Linked DNA regions of Homo sapiens: region 1 is linked to region 2. The links come from fine-mapping of genetic effects on gene expression. A gene starts in region 2. The other region holds a variant in brackets. All regions are shown on one strand. Distances are from middle to middle.

Region 1 (2,905 bases), 410 kb before region 2:
TCTAGTGACAGAGACTTGAACAGTGTAAACAAAATAGAAAAGTACTTGTGTCTACACTTGAGGTGGATATGCTGGGATTATAGATATGGCTCAATTTTGGAGGTTAGTCACAGATAATGGGAAATACTTTTTTTTTTTTTTGGAGACGGAGTCTTGCTCTGTCGCCAGGCTGGAGTGCAGTGGTGCGATCTCAGCTCACTGCAACCTCCAGCTCCTGGGTTCAAGCGATTTCCCTGCCTCAGCCTCCCAAGTAGCTGGGACTACAGGCACATGCCACCACACCCAGCTAATTTTTCGTATTTTAGTAGAGATGGGGTTTCACCATGTTGGCCAGGATAGTCTCGATCTCCTGACCTCGCCTTGGCCTCCCAAGGTGCTGGGATTACAGGCATGAGCCACTGCGACCGCCAGGAAATATTTTTTAAGAGGATGATGACTTTTTCCACCAGTGCTTAGAAACTGGACTATACTGCTCCAAAAGTGATTCCTAAGAAAATGTGAGAAATGTCAGAATATGCCACAGCTACGTATCATTCCTGACAAAAGTTGACCTGCTCTGAACTCATGTTTCTCCTTTCCTCCTTCAGTGTTTGATTTCTTTTTTTTTTTTTGAGATGGAGTCTCGCTCTGTTGCCCAGGCTGGAGTGCCGTGGCGCCATCTCAGCTCACTGCAAGCTCCGCCTCCCGGGTTCACGCCTTTCTCCTGCCTCAGCCTTCTGAGTAGCTGGGACTACAGGCGCCTGCCACCACGCCCGGCTAATTTTTTGTATTTTTAGTAGAGACGGGGTTTCACCATGTTAGCCAGGATGGTCTCGATCTCCTGACCTCGTGATCCGCCCACCTTGGCCTCCCAAAGTGCTGGGATTATAGTCGTGAGCCACCACGCCTGGCCCAGTGTTTAATTTCTACAGAAACATCCTGTCCCTTCTGCAAGGAAAAACAACAGGAATATTGGTAGACCAGGCTGGCCTTTCACAAAGGACCACTGGTATAATTCTAGGGGTATCTGCAGATCCTTCAACCCAAAAATCCTCCCCATCAGCCTGCTTCAGATGCCTCCAGGTCTTTAGCTGTGACATTATCCTCTGTTGAATGCTAACATCCTTGGGAGGTAATCTAGGAAGTTTTTTTTGTTTGTTTGTTTGTTTTTTTGAGATAGAGTTTCACTCTTGTTGCCCAGGCTGGAGTGCGATCTCAGCTCACTGCAACCTCTGCCTCCGG[G/GTTCAAGTGA]TTCAAGTGATTCTTCTGCCTCAGCCTCTTGAGTAGCTGGGATTACTGGCACCCACCACCATGCTTGGCTAATTTTTGTATTTTTAGTAGAAATGGGGTTTCACCATTTTGGTCAGCCTGATCCTCCCAAAGTGCTGGGATTACAGGCGTGAGCCACCATGCCCAGCCGTCTAGGAAGCTTTTAACAGCTTAGAGTGCATTTGCATTAATTGATCTGATCCCCTTTTACCTGAGCACTAACCATTAGCAGTTTCCGGCAGGGAGGGGCCTCCAGGTCCTTCTTCCCGCCTCCCCAGGCTTTTGAGGTTCTACCACCCTCCAAACTATACAGTCTTGACTAAGGGTCTTGGGAACCTGGACAGCATCAGAACATTACATTCCTGTCTAAAGAATGGGGAAGACTAGCTCTACCCAAGGCTCACTTTATGTGTAACATTCTGCACTAGGTAATCTCTATAATCTCCAGTACTAGGACTGCCTGCTAGCAGGTTCTCCCAGGACATCAACAGAGTTTGGGTTAAATGTTGGGAACCACCAGAACCTCATACATGGGAGTGTAAAGTGGTATAACCAACTTTGGAGAACAATTTGGCAATATCTAATAAAGTGTGTGCATCAGACATTCCTTGCCTAGAAACATAAATCCCAAACATTTGTTCACCAGAAGACAGTCCTCAATGTTCACAGCAGCAGTATCCATAACAGCCCCAAACTGGAAACCACCCAAACGCCGGGTGTTTGTACGTTCACACCACGGAGAGTGAACAACCTACAACTGTACACAACGCGCACGGAGAATGAACAATCTACAGCTATACACAACATGAACAAATTTCAGAATGACACAGGTGAGCAAAAGAAACTAGTCACAAAACACTACACGCTGAGTGATTCCACTTATAAAAAGTATAAAAACCCAGGCCGGGTGTGGTGGCGGCTCACACCTGTAATCCCAGCACTTTGGGAGGCCAACGCGGGTGGATCACCGAGGTCAGGAGTTCAAGACCAGCCTGGCCAACATGGAGAAACCCCGTCTCTACTAAAAATACAAAAAAAAAAAAAAAAGCCAGGTGTGGTGGTGCATGCCTGTAATCCCGGCTACTGTGGAGGCTGAGGCAGGAGAATCTCTTGAACCCGGGAGTTGGAGGTTGCAGTGAGCTGAGAACGCGCCACTTCACTCCAGCCTGGGCAAAAGAGCGAAACTCCATTTCAGAAACAAACAAACAAAAAAAGTATAAAAACCCACAAAACTGTCGTGTTGGAATCAGGAGAGTGGGTACCCTTAGGGGGAATAGTGACTAGAAGGGAAGGTGATGAGGCGAGGGTGTTGGTCACATGTTCTGTTTCTTGCTCTAGTTGCTGATTTCACAGGAGTGTTCAGTTTGTGAAAATTCACCACGCTGTGTAATTGTGATATGTTCTTTTATATGTTTACTGCACATCAGTTAAAAAGATTTCTTTTTAAGTGCTTTCTTAAAGAAATGACTGAGCACAGTGGCTCACGCCTGTAATCCCAGCACTTTGGGAGGCCGGGCGGGTGGATCACCTGAGGTCAGGCGTTCAAGACCAGCCTGACCAATATGGTGAAACCCCATCGTTACTAAAAATACAAAAATTAGCAGGGCGTGGTGGCATGCACCTGTTGTCCCAGCTACTCGGGAGGCTGAGGCAGGAGAATCGCTTG
Region 2 (2,905 bases):
GGAATCTGGGTGGCAGCTAGCACCACAGTCTGCCATATTATCACTCTTTGTTCTGTGTGTGTGTGTGTGTGCACGCATGCCTGCACGCACCTGGCTTCCGTGCAAAGCCATAAGTCTTCATCGTGTTTGTGTGTGTGTGTGTGTGTGTGTGTGTGTGTGTGCATGTGCCTGAATGCACCTGGCTTCTGTACTAAGCCATACGCTTCCTGAGGGCAAGGCTTTGTCTCTGGGAATCTCTTGCAAGGAACAGGCCCACAATGAATGCTGCTGAAACAGGGAGAATGGATTGAGTCTTACTGGGAATCACCAGGGCAAGTAAATACACATATTAAAAAATAAGTATGCTGGTCCCTCAACCCCACATCCTTGGCTTTCCTGGGGACTGGAGTTTGGAACAAGGATTCAGCCTTTGACAAATGTCTAGGACTCTGTCTGCAAGGTGGGGCCGCTTGGCCAGTGGTGGAGCCACACTCCCCAGGGACCTTGTGGTCCTCTCCACTCCGGAGCCCCTCCCCGCCGAACCCCTCAACTCTGGCTGCCCCCTGCACTGAAGCGCTCAGGACCCTCCACCTCAGCAAAGCTGAGGATCCAGTCACACGGGAATGGGGTGTATGGGGAAACTGGAGCCCCCCACCCCCTTCAGGCTTCAGGTTCTGCCCTGATTATGCCTCCAATATGACTCCCAGGGAAGGCAGGGGTTGGGGGGGGGATGTGGAGACTAAGGAGGACGGGGAAGCGAGGTAGCAGAGAGGAGGGCAAAGGCAGCAGAAATAAAGGTGTGCGTGGCGGGAGGTGGCGGGGCTCGACCTCGGGCCGCTCTGGACGCCCGGCAGTGCCAGGCAGGGCCCGGGTCTGGGCGGTGGAGGACAACTTCTGCCAGCAGCCCGCCGCGAGTCCTGTCCGCCTCCCGCGCGCTGCGGTGCCCAGCCCCGCGCCAGCCCTCCCGGGGGAGCTGGAGCTTGGCCGCGCTGCTCCCCCCTGGGGCCGCTCCGGCGCCCACACCCCCCACGCCCACCGACCGGCCTCCTCACCTTCGGGACCTGGGAGTCACCGGCCGGCGGGGCCCTGGGTCCGGGCCGGGCTGGGTGGGGGCGGCGCTCTTCCCCCCACGCTAGCTGCGCCCGGGGATCTGCAGCGCCCGCCCCGGCTGCGGCGCCATCAGCTGCTGGGAGGCTGCGGGGCAGTCGGGCCGGGGCTCCGGGGGGCTCGGGGGCGCCGAAGGGGGGTCGGGGGCGGGCTCGAGGCGTAAACACCCAGCAACGTGACCGGAACTGGCGAACGAGCCGGAGGGGTGCGGGGGGCGGGAGAGAGAAAGGGGGAGGGGAGGGACCTGAGACGGGCGGGGAGGGGCCGTGGGCGGGGCGGGGGGAGGGGAGGCCGGCGGCGCGCGGTCGGGGGGAGGGGGAACCCCGGGAGCCCCGAGAGCCCCGGGAACCGGGCCTGAGGCCCCCAGCGGGCCGCTGGGCTCGCGGAGCTGGCTTTGGCTGGTAGCTGGAAGGGCAAACTGGGGAACCCGCCGGTGCCTTGGCGCGCAGGGGCGCGGCGAAGGATCAGCACCGCGGACAGCGCCCAGGCCGCCAGGCCGCGATCCGCTCCGCCCCTCCCGCCCTGGCGTAGGAAGGAGAGGCAGCGCCCGCAGCCGCGCAGGCAAGGCTTGGGGCGAAGCGCGATCTGACCAGTGGGCTGGGAATCCGTCCCGTGTCTAGGCAGCAGCAAACCTGCCCCAGACCTCTCACTAGCTGTGTGGCCTTGGGTGAGTCACATCACCTCTCTGGGCCGCAGTTGATAAGATGCCCTATTTCTAAAATTCTTTTATTATTATTATTATGCTTTAAGTTCTATGAGGGTCCCAAGAGCCAAGGGAAGATTCTTGATAAACTCCAAAGTTCAGGCCGGGCGCAGTGGCTCACGCCTGTGAGGCCAGCAGTTTGGGAGGCCGAGGCGGGCGGATCACCTGAAGTCAGGAGTTCGAGACCAGCCTGGCCAACATGGTGTATGTATCCCAATCTCTACTAAAACTACAAAAATTAGCCGGGAGTGGCGGGCGCCTCTAATCCCAGCTACTCGGAAGGCTGAGGCAGGAGAATCGCTTGAACCTGGGAGGCAGAGGTTGCAGTGGCCAAGATCGTGCCACCGCACTCCAGCCTGTGTGACAGAGCGAGACTCTATGTCAAAAACAAATAAACAAAAAAACTCCAAAGTTCAGAACACGTGCGAGGCATTGCTGTTGATCCGTTTTCACCAAACGTGGGAGGCTTCAGGAGTCCCACTGTGTGCCTCAAAAGTGTGGCTGCCCTAATATCTTCCTCCTGCCGGGGGCTTGGTCTCATCTGTAAATGAGGATAATGATGATCTATGTAGCTCATAAGATCTTCGGGTTGTTGTGAGGATTAAATGAATTCCTTCCTGTAAAGTGCTCAGAACAGTACTGCTGAGTGCTTGTTAGGCCTCTGTGCTCATGACAAGGGATGAGGTAGCATTGTGTGAGTGGCAGGTGGCTCAGAGATTGCTCTGGGTAAGTCATTCCTGTCCCTGCCTGGAGGACTGGGCTGAGTGGATTCAGGCTAATGGGTTGGTGCCTGGCTTTCCCCACTCCATGGCTAGCCAAATAATCCCTGGCCTTTCCTCCTGGACCAAATTTTCAGAGAAGCCCTGTACCTTCAGAGCTGGGAGACCCGGCACCTACTTGCCACAGAGGCCCTGGGGAGGCCTCAAGGGGCACCCTGCCTCTCTATGGGTCCCTTTCCTCCCTGTCCTCCCCACTTTCCAAAGGTTAACTGGACTCAGGTGTCAACAACTAAAAAGCTTTAGCTGCTCCTGGAAAATTCTAATCCTAAAGAGTTGCAGGGGCCAGGCTCAGTGGCTCACGGCTCTAATCCCAGCATTTTCGGAGGCTGAGGTGGGT

Evidence for each region.
Region 1: its variant is fine-mapped to the expression of CCDC92B in vagina (GTEx, PIP above 0.99).

Annotation. Positions count from the first base shown.
Region 1 is chr17:2,339,992-2,342,896 of GRCh38, forward strand. All of the region lies in intron 1 of SGSM2 (small G protein signaling modulator 2), which reads left to right. Among named protein-coding and RNA genes, the nearest start is that of SGSM2, 3.9 kb to the left of the region's middle. The variant G/GTTCAAGTGA (reference allele first, on the strand shown) is at 1,222.
Region 2 is chr17:2,748,380-2,751,284 of GRCh38, forward strand. It overlaps CCDC92B (coiled-coil domain containing 92B), which reads right to left and starts at 1,273. Exons shown (of 4, transcript NM_001355573.2): 1 at 1,032-1,273. RefSeq lists a silencer at 1,463-1,652.